Linked DNA regions of Homo sapiens: regions 2, 3 and 4 are each linked to region 1. The links come from fine-mapping of genetic effects on gene expression. A gene starts in region 1. Each other region holds a variant in brackets. All regions are shown on one strand. Distances are between the middles of the regions.

Region 1 (2,689 bases):
AGGGCAGCAGGGCTGAGCGGAAGGAAAAACCGGGCTTGTGGTCACGAATGACTGCATAAAGGTGTGAGAGTGCCAGAGGAGTGAGCATAAGTAAAATGCCCAGGAGGGAGGAGGAGGCGACAGAGAGTGAGGCAAGTGAATAAAAGGGCGGAATACAGGGAGCTCTGGGGAGCGGGGGTGGGCGAGGCGGGTCTCAGGGTGAGGGGCAGAAGTATTAGAAAGGAGGACAACGTGGCTCAAATAAGGATCCCTAGAAGAGAAGGCAAGGGATCCGTGGGAAGGCCCGCTCTCCCTCCCCCGCACAGCCAGATCGAGGAGGCCTAAAAGGCGCTGAGAGCGAGGAAGTCAACGTGGGGGCGAAGCCTGCGCGGGGCAGGGACCCTCGGACATCCCAGCAACTCTCATTTATTGGGTGTCTGCTGTGGGCCACACGCCGCGCGAGGCACTCCACGAATAATACCTCGCCATATCTTCACGACAAGCCCGCAAGGCAGCCTTTTTCATGACTGCTCCCATTTTATAGATGAGGACACTGAGGCCCGGAGAGGCTCAGGACTCGCTCAAGGTCACAGGGCGGAGAAGAGGCCATTCGAACCCTCGGCGCCTGGCTCCGGAACCCACGCGGAAAGCCACGGCCAGCGAGCCGGCCACAGGCAGCCGCGACGCGGGCCGGGGCCCCGGGGATACCTCCCGCGCCCGCTCCCGCGCCAGGCCCTGCGCGCTCACCCGGACGAGGTTGCTGACGGCCGCCTGCACGGCGGCCACGGGCGCGGTGAGGTCAGGAATGGCTTTGCCGTCCACCTCGCCCTCCTCGTGCATTATCACCAGGTGGGAGATCTGCTGTGCCACCGGCTCCAGGATGCTCTCGATCGTGCGCGTATGAAACACTGGCATCGCGGCGGCGAGCGGGGCGGCGAACCGCGGGCGACAGAGAAGTAGGATCCACGGGGCCGGGAACCGGCGAAGAGACAGACTGTGCAGCGACTACGGAGTCGGGGCTTCCCTCGGCGTAACCAGCCTCACGGGCTCCCCGCCCCCTCTCGTCGCCGCGCCCAATGGCAGCGCAGCTCAGACCTGGGCCGCCACTCCTACTGGTCCCTTTTCGAGATGCTCCGCCCCAGCCACCGCGCCGCCAAACCCCGCCCCTCCCCCATTCCTAAGGGAGGGGCCTGGGATTGGGGCTGAGCCGCCGGGATTGCTACCGGATTCCCGAGCCCTAACGCCGGGCGCTCCTTATAAGGGCATGGTGGGAGCGGAGCGGGCCGCTGGAGCCGGCTGGTCCCGCCCCCGGGCCGCCTCCCGCCTCGGATCTGGGGGGCTCCGCCCCTCTGCAGAATCACCTCAGCGGGGCGGGGTCTCCTCACCTCAAGCGGCGCTAGAGTTTGATGAGACCAAGGGGTCTCCCACGTCCCCTCCTCAACTTTTCCCTTCACACGAAACCCTCAAAATACTCCTTCCATTCCCTCCCAGCAATGCATGGGAAGGTTTTTAGTAAAAGATTCAAACAGCAGAGGTGCACTGAGAAACAGCAGCGTCCCATTCACGTAAACGCAGACTCCGCCCCCTGCCCTCCTCAAAGACATTCTGTTTAACAGCTGGGTGTGTAGCCTTCTAGACTTGTCTATAGATTCACTTCTACATATATATTTTCTAACTAAATGAGATTAATAAACATTTTCCTGGAACTAGGTATGATTGCCCTTGATTAAAATGCCCTTATCTTTCACTGCTGGTAGAGGTCTACCTCATTCTTCTTAATGACTGCATGATATTCCATTGCATGAAATAAAACTATTTACAGAACCAATTTCCTACTCATGGACTTGGGTTGGGTCCTGGTTTTCACTATTAAAAAACAATTCTGCATGAATTGTACTTACCCCTGTGCTGTGCATCTGTGTATTTATCTAGCGCAAATGCCTACCAGGAAAGAGAAAAACGCAAAAGTATATGCATTTTATATTTTGATAGGTAAGACCAAATTATCCAGTTCCCTCACGCTTTGTATAAGACATCTTCCAGGCCGGGCGCGATGGCTCACGCCTGTAATCCCAGCACTTTGGGAGGCTGAGGCGGGCGGATCACGAGGTCAGGAGATCTAGGCCATCCTGTCTAACACGGTGAAACCCCGTATCTACTAAAAATACAAAAAAAATAGCCAGGCGTGGTGGCGGGCGCCTGTAGTCCCAGTTACTCATGAGGCTGAGGCAGGACAATGGCGTGAACCCGGGAGGCGGAGCTTGCAGTGAGCGGAGATCGCGCCACTACACTCCATCCTGGGCGACAGAGCAAGACTCTGTCTCAAAAAAAAAAAAAAAAAAAAAAAGACATCTTCCAAACGTCTTACTTACTTCAAATTCGCTTTTGCCCAAGCTTTCCCATTCTGAGGTAAACACTTTCAGTAATGCCTCCAAGCAAAAGATTCTCACATCAAATGAAAATTTTTGTCTAGTCCTACCACAACCACCACAGCTGTTTTCTCTGCCCATTACTTTGTGTTAATAGTATAAATATTTGGGTGATGGGGCCAGGCACGGTGGCTCACGCCTGTAATCCCAGCATTTTGGGAGGCTGAGGCAGGCAGATCACCTGAGGTCAGGGGTTCAAGACCAGCCTGGCCAACCTGGTGAAACCCCGTCTCAACTAAAAATACAAAAATTAGCCAGGTGTGGTGGCAGGTGCCTGTAAT
Region 2 (2,689 bases), 25 kb after region 1:
TCTCACTCTGTTAGACAGGCTGGAGTGCAGTGGTGCAATCATGGCTCACTGCAACCTCTGCATCCTGGGCTCAAGCAATCCTCCTACCTCAGCCTCCTGAGTAGCTGGGACTACAGGACTGCGTCACCACACCACAGTAATTTTTTGTATTTTTTCTAGAGTTGGGGTTTCACCATGTTATCCAGGCTGGCCTTGAATGCCTGGCTTCAAGCAATCTGCCCACCTCAGCCTCCCAAAGTGCTGGGATTACAGGCATGAGTCACCTGTAATGCCCAGCCAATTTTGGAATATTTTTATCACCCCAAAAGAAACCTCCTACTCATTTGCAGTCCTCCTACTCATTTGCACCATCCCTACCCCTTGTCCTAGGTACCACTAATCTACTTTCTGTGACAATAGATTTGCATACTCTGGACATTTCATATAAATGGAATCATGCACTATGTGGTCCTTTGTGACCAGCTTCTTTCACTTAGCAAAATGTTTTCAAGGTTATTAATGTTGTAGCATGTATCAGTACTTCATTCCTTTTTATGACCAAATAATATTCCATATCTGACTATATTGCATTTTGCTGATTCATCACCAGTTAATGGGGCATTTGGATGGTTTCTACTTTTTGGCTATTATGAAAAATGTTATCATGAAAATTCATGTTTTTTGTTTGTTTTTTGAGACAGACTCTCACTCTGTGGCCCAGGCTGGAGTGCATGGCTCGATCTCGGCTCACTGCAACCTCCACTTCCCAGGTTCAAGCAATTCATGTGCCTCAGCCTCCTGAGTAACTGGGATTACAGGCATGTGCCATCACACCCAGCTAATTTTTGTATTTTTAGTAGAGATGGGGTTTCACCGTGTTGGCCAGGATGGTCTCAATCTCCTGACTTTGTGATCCACCCACCTCGCCCTCCCAAAGTGCTGGGATTACAGGCGTGAGCCACCACACCTGGCCATTCATGTACACGTTTTTGTATGGACATGTGTTTTCATTCCTCTTGGGTATGTACATAGGTCCATGAATTGATTTTTTTTTTTTTTTTTTGAGACGGAATTTCATTCTTGTTGCCCAGGCTGGAGTGCAATGGCGCGATCTC[G/A]GCTCACCGCAACCTCCACCTCCCGGGTTCAAGAGATTATCCTGCCTCAGCTTCCTGGGTAGCTGGGATTACGGGCATGTGCCACCACGCCCTGCTAATTTTGTATTTTTAGTAGAGATGGGGTTCCTCCATATTGGACAGGCTAGTCTCCAACTTCTGACCTCAGGTGATCTGCCTGCCTAGGCCTCCCAAAGTGCTGGGATTACAGGCGTAAGCCACTGCGACCAGCCAAATTGATATTTTTATGAGAAAGTCAATGATTATTTTCCAATCATTAAACTTTTATCTTTCTGATATATGGAGAACAGTAAGTGATAGTTAATGTGGGGCGAGGAAAGTGGAGAAGAAGTTAATAGGAACTTTCACTCAAGGTATAAAGGAATTTAAGAGCTTAGATGGTGAAGTGAAACTGCATAGTTTAAAATCCTGATTCTACTTTGGGAGGCCGAGGCGGGTGGATCACAAGGTCAGGAGTTCAAGACCAGCCTGGCCAATATGGTGAAACCCCGTCTCTACTAAAAATACAAAAATTTGCCGGTGTGGTGGCACGCACCTGTAGTCCCAGCTACTTGGGAGGCAGAGACAGGAGAATCGCTTGAACCCGGGAGGCAGAGGTTGCAGTGAGCTGAGATTGTGCCACTGCACTACAGCCTGGGTGACAGAGTAAGACTCTGTCTCAAACAAAACAAAACAAAACAAAACAAATCCTGATTCTACCTCTTACAAGATGTTTGCCTTAGGCAATTTATTTAACTCTCTGAGCTTCAGTTTCTTTGTCTATAAAATGGAGAAAAATATAACTACCTCATAAGATTGTTGTGAGGATTGAATCAGATAGCACTAAACCCAGTGACCAGCACATTGTAATGTTCACTAATAGTAATTATTGGCCAGCCACAGTGGCTCATGCCTGTAATCCCAACACTGAGAGGCTGAGGTGGGAGAACTGCTTGAGTCCAAGAGTTCAAGGCTGCCGTGAGACATGATTGCACCACTGCACTTCAGCATGGGCAACAGAGCAAGACCTTGTCTCAAAAAAAAAAAGTAATTATTATTAATAATTTACACACTGCTGCATTTTTATAATGAGCATGCATTGCTTTTGTAATTTAAAAAATAATTTTAAGATGCATGAAATCAACCTTAATTCTGTGTATTTACTAATGTAAATGCATTCTTACGTTACCAAATTGTGCTTTAAGCTGGAAAATAGTGCTTTGACCCTGTTTCCTTGCTGTCTGTGTTTTAGATTTACTGAGGAAATGGAGACTGCTTACTTAAAGCCTGTATCATGCTTTAGTTATTCTTTTCCATTTTACAAATCAGGAGGGAGAATTTCCTGGGCAAAAAATAATTCATGAAGTAGTGGTGCCATTTTTCACAAAAATTGATCCTGAGATGAATATTAATTGTGTAGTCTACAAAGAGTTAATTTTATTTCTCCATTGATAGTTTGGACCTTTGAAGTGAAGAAATTCTAACCGAACTCCTTTCTGACCCTTAAGCCTTTTTGTTTCCATGCAAAAGAAATCTGTTAATAATCTAGCATCTTGCCAAAGATTCTGTCTCATTTCTCTATAGCTGATTTGAGTATT
Region 3 (2,689 bases), 140 kb before region 1:
GAAGCAGCTTTTTTTTTCCTAGTAATAAATTTTCTCATGACTGTTTTATACATCAGCTTTGCCTTCTCCTTTTTTGGTTTCTAGGCAGTAGTAATGTTGGGGACACACTCCCCACCGGGCAGCTGTCCAACATACCATGGCGTCGGGCAGGGGTAAAGTACACAAACAATGAAGCCTATTTTGATGTTGTTGAAGAAATAGACGCAATTATAGATAAATCAGGTAATTGTGTGCATGTCATCTTATTTGGGGAAAAACAATTCATCTGACACAGATGAATAGAAAACTGAAGTCCTGGCCGGGCGCGGTGGCTCACGCCTGTAATCCCAGCCCTTTGGGAGGCCAAGGCAGGCGGAACATGAGGTCAGAGTTCGAGACCAGCCTGGCCAACATGGTGAAACTCTGTCTCTACTAAAGATACAAAAAATTAGCCGGGCATGGTGGCGCGCACCTGTAATCCCAGCTACTCGGGAGGCTGAGGCAGGAAAATTGCTTGAACCCAGGAGGCAGAGGTTGCAATGAGACAAGATCATGCCATTGCACTCCAGCCTGGCTCTGTCTCAACAAAAAAAAAAAAAAGAAGAAGAAAGGAAAAGAAAATTGAAGTCCTTTGGCAGTATGGTTTCGGTGGAAAGGCATTCATTATCTGATGATTTTTAAATCTGTTTGTTTATTTATTTATTTATTTGAGACGGGGTCTCACACTGTTGTCCAGGCTGGAGTGCAATCACATGATCTTGGCTCACTGGAACCTTCACCTCCTGGATTCAAGCGATCCTGCTGCTTCAGCTTCCCAAGTAGCTGGGATTACAGGCATGAGCCACCACACCTGGCTAAATTTTTTTTTTTTTTTTGAGACGCAGTTTCACTCTTATTGCCCAGGGTGGAGTGCAATGGTGCAATCTCAGCTCACCGCAACCTCCGCCTCCCGGGTTCAAGCAGTTCTTCTGCCTCAGCCTCCCGAGTACCTGGGATTACAGGCATGCACCAGCATGCCCAGCTAATTTTGTGTTTTTGGTGGAGATGGGATTTCTCCACGTTGGTCAGGCTGGTCTCGAACTCCTGAACTTAGGTGATCTGCCCGTTTCGGCCTCCCAAAGTG[T/C]TAGGATTACAGGCGTGAGCCACCGCTCCCGGCCCTGGCTAATTTTTTGTATTTTTAGTAGAGACGGGGTTTCACAATGTTGGCCAGGCTGGTCTCAAGCTCCTAACCTCAAGTGATCCACCTGCCTTGGCCTCCCAAAGGGCTGGGATTACAGGCGTGAGCCACTGCACCTGGCCCATAAATCTGTTTATTTTGCCCATAGGTTACATATAATTTTCATAACCACTAGTTGAGGTCTGCCAAACATGTAAATCAGAACTCATAATGCCTTACTTTAAGCCAATTATTACCCTATGTACCTCTACCTCTTGCTATTTATTCCTTCTAACATTTATTGAAAATCTGCTATATACCATGCTTTTGCTACTACATTATGTGCAGTACTTCTGGTAAAAGCCCCTATCTGATTATTTTTCACTTTCTTTTTTTTTTTTAAGTACAGGGTCTTGCTCTTTTGCCTAGGCTGGAGTGCATTGGCGCAGTCCCTGCTTACTGTAGCCTTGACCTCCAGCTCATGTGATCCTCCTACCTCAAACTCCTGAGTAGCCTATAGTCCCAGCCAATCAGGAGGTACACGCCACACGCCACCATGCCTGGCTAACTTTTATTTGTTTTTTTTGTACAGACAGGGTCTCACCATGTTGCCCAGGCTGGTCTTGAACTCCTGGGCTCAATCAGTTTACCTACCTCAGCCTCCCAAAGTGCTGGGATTACAGGCATCAGCCACCACACCCAATCTGATTATCTTTTTAACCAGACAAAACAATAGTACTCTATAAGAATCGTAAAATTTTATTATTAAAAATAGCAGCCGGGCATGGTGGATCACGCCTGTAATTCCAGCACTTTGGGAGGCCGAGGCAGGCAGATCACTTGAGGTCAGGAGTTTGAGACCAGCCTGGCCAACATGGTAAAACCCCGTCTCTACTATAAATACAAAAATTAGCTGGGCGTGGTGGCAGGCGCCTGTAAACCCAGCTACTTGGGAGGCTGAGGCAGGAGAATTGCTTGACCCTGGGAGGCAGAGGTTGCAGTGAGCCAAGATTGCACCACTGCACTCCAGCCTGGGTGACAGAGTGAGACTCCATCTCTAAAAAAACAAAAAAAGAAAAAAGAAAAAAAATCTAGTCCTTCCTTTACATTTATTTTACACATAAGGAAAGCCCAGAAGGGTTAAGTGAACTGTTCCAGGTCACACAACTTGTTAATATGTAATGATGGCTTATTGTGAATTATAGTCAATATCTTCTCTTCCATGAGTCCCCTTTTCATTATAACATTCCATCTTATAGAATAATAGATTTTTGCCAGGCACGGTGGCTCACACCTGTAATCCCAGCACTTTGGGAGGCTTAGGCAGGAAGATCACTTGAGCCCAGGAGTTCAAGACCAGCCTAGGCAACATAGCAAGACCCCATATCTATCAAAAATTTAAAAGATTAGCTAGGCATGGCTTCCTTAATCCTACCTATTCAGAAGGCTGAGGCAGGAGGATTGCTTGAGCCCAGGAGTTCAATGCTGTGGTGAACTATGTTCACACCACTGTACTCCAGCCTGGATGGCAGAGGGAGACCCTGTCTCTTAAAA
Region 4 (2,689 bases), 37 kb after region 1:
AGCCTGGGCAATGTGGTGAAACCCTGTCTGTACTAAAAAATACAAAAAAATTAGCCAGGCATGGTGGCACACGCCTGTAGTCCCAGCTACTCAGGAGGCTGAGGCAGGAGAATTACTTGAACCCAGGAGGCGGAAGTTGCAGTGAGCTGAGATCATGCCACGGCACTCCAGCCTAGGCGACAGAGCAAGACTCTGTCTCAAAAAAAAAAAAAACTCAAAAAACCAGGTTCAATACCAAACCAGGTTCAACATTCTATTCTCTTTCCTTGTCCCTACATCTATGTATTCCCCAGTTGTTTCTCCAAACACTGTAATACACATTTTTGTATTTGATCCCCTCAACTTGTGGTATAATGAGTAGTTATTGTTAGTTACCAGAACCAGGGACTACTAATTTTTTCTTTTAATTAACTTTTTGTTGGTATAACATATATACAGAAAAGTGCACAAACCATATACAAATTACATAAATATCTATAAATTTGCAAAAGGCAAAACACTCCCGAGTGACTAATACCTAAAGGAAGGAACAGAACATCGCGAGCACCCCAAAAGCCCCCTCTTGACACCTTCTAGTCACTAATCTCCCAAGGGTAATTCTTATCCATGGGTGAACAGCATAGATTAATTTTACCTATTTTTGAACTTGACATAAATGGAACCATCAGTATATGCTCTTCTGTGTCTGATATCTTCCATGTAATATTATGGTTGTGATAGTCATCCATGTGGTTGTGCTTAGTGATACATTATTTATTCCCGTTGCTGTGTAGCACTCCATTGTATGAATTCACCATGATTTATTTATCCATTCTATTGTTGGTGGACATTTGAATTGTTTCTGTTCTTAGCTTTTACATATAGTGCCACTATGAACATTGTTTTTTCGTGTTTTTTTTGGTGACAGAATCCCGCTCTGTCGCCCAGGCTGGAGTGCAGTGGCGCGATCTCGGCTCGGCTCACTGCAAGCCCTGCCTCCTGGGTTCACGCCATTCTCTCGCCTCAGCCTCCTGAGTAGCTGGGACTACAGGCGTCTGCAACCACGCCTGGCTAATTTTTTGTATTTTTAGTAGAGACAGGGTTTCACCATGTTAGCCAGGATGGTCTCGATCTCCTGACCTCGTGATCCACCC[G/A]CCTCGGCCTCCCAAAGTGCTTGGATTACAGGCGTGAGCCACCACACCCAGCCAAACATTCGTATAGATGTTTTTATGTATATGAACATGCATTTTTTTAGAAACGTAATTGCTTATCACACCTTTTGCATATGTTCCACTTTGATAGTTGTCAAATGGTTTTCTAAACTGGCAATTTACATTCTCACTAGCCACATGTGAAAGTTCCAGTTGCTCTATGTCCTCACCAATACTGTGTTGTCTGTCTTTTTCATTTTAGCCATTCTGGTGAATGTACAAGGATATCTTATTGTATTTTAACTTGCATTTTCTTGCCAATTAATGAATTGGTGTCTTTTTGTATATTTATTAGCCATTTGGGTATTTTGAGATGTTTTAAAGGGTGTTCTTTCTCCTGGTTATGAAAATAATACATGCTGAGGTGGGTGAATCACTTGAGGTCAGGAGTTTGAGACGAGCCTGGCCCACATGGTGAAACCCTATCTCTACTAAAAAATACAAAAATTAGCCAGGTGTGGTGGCATGCACCTGTAATCCCAGATACCCAGGAGACTGAGGCAGGAGAATCACTGGAACCCGGGAGGTGGAGGTTGCAGGGAGCCCAGATAGTGCCACTGCACTCCAGCCTGGGTGACAGAGTGAGATTCTGTCTCAAACAAACAAACAAACAAAACCATGCTAATTGAAGAAGGTTTGGCAAATACATAGTGGCTTTGTACTATGTCAGTTTAGCTAAACTGAAACTATGTTTTTCAGAATTTCTTTCTCTGTATGGTTCTGGGCTAGGGTTGGCCACAGAAAATTTGCACAAGATTGGAGGGCAGAGGTGAAGCAAACATGCTTATGCTCAGAAGGTCAGTGTAGAGGCAGGTGCCGTTCTAACTTATGGTATCTCAGATCTGCTAGCTCACCCTGTGGCCATGGGATAGACTTGAGCCTACATCTCCTTCAGCTCCCATGACAGATCTTCCTTCAGCATTTTCAGTCCCTGAGTCAGGTCTGTGTTCAGCTTTATGATGAAGGTTCAGCAATTCCTGCAGGTCGCCCACATAATTGAAGTAGGAAGTTTTAGAGGCAGTGAGACATTGATACAGGCTCTATTTCATCCTGTGGGTGCCCTCTGGTTCTTTTGGACTCCCACTGGTCCTTACTGTCCCATACTTCATGTCTACCTGTTATTTCTGACTTCAGTCCCAGCACCAGAAACAGAAGCAACTGTTGTATACAAACTGCTTAACCAGTTCCCACATTGCATAACACCAAAACCCCACAAGAAACATCTTACTCTATGCCGTGCCTGATAATTCTGCTTCTCTAATTAAGCCTTGACCAATAATAGGCATTAAGAAGTAAACCATGGCCAAGCACAGTGACTCACGGCTGGAATCCCAGCACTTTGGGAGACCAAGGCGGGTGGATCGCCTGAGGTCAGGAGTTTGAGACCAGCCTGACCAACATGGTGAAACCCCATCTCTACTAAAAATACAAAAATTAGCCAGGTGTGATGGTACACGCCTGTAGTCCCAGCTACTCAAGAGGCTGAGGCAGGAGAATGG

What was found. PIP is the estimated chance that this variant, and not a neighbour inherited with it, causes the effect.
Region 2: its variant is the best candidate, but not a certain one, in a credible set for the expression of VCL in whole blood (TOPMed, PIP 0.67).
Region 3: its variant is the best candidate, but not a certain one, in a credible set for the expression of VCL in whole blood (INTERVAL, PIP 0.66).
Region 4: its variant is the best candidate, but not a certain one, in a credible set for the expression of VCL in whole blood (TOPMed, PIP 0.57).

Annotation. Positions count from the first base shown.
Region 1 is chr10:73,996,413-73,999,101 of GRCh38, reverse strand. VCL (vinculin) reads right to left here and starts at 986. Exons shown (of 22, transcript NM_014000.3): 1 at 727-986. The coding sequence starts at 894. RefSeq lists enhancers at 34-685, 758-957 and silencers at 638-687, 1,018-1,377.
Region 2 is chr10:73,971,507-73,974,195 of GRCh38, reverse strand. No RefSeq gene overlaps it. Among named protein-coding and RNA genes, the nearest start is that of VCL, 25 kb to the left of the region's middle. The variant G/A (reference allele first, on the strand shown) is at 1,095.
Region 3 is chr10:74,131,560-74,134,248 of GRCh38, reverse strand. AP3M1 (adaptor related protein complex 3 subunit mu 1) reads left to right here. Exons shown (of 9, transcript NM_012095.6): 4 at 85-222. Among named protein-coding and RNA genes, the nearest start is that of AP3M1, 18 kb to the left of the region's middle. The variant T/C (reference allele first, on the strand shown) is at 1,103.
Region 4 is chr10:73,959,419-73,962,107 of GRCh38, reverse strand. No RefSeq gene overlaps it. Among named protein-coding and RNA genes, the nearest start is that of VCL, 37 kb to the left of the region's middle. RefSeq lists a silencer at 1,923-2,217. The variant G/A (reference allele first, on the strand shown) is at 1,134.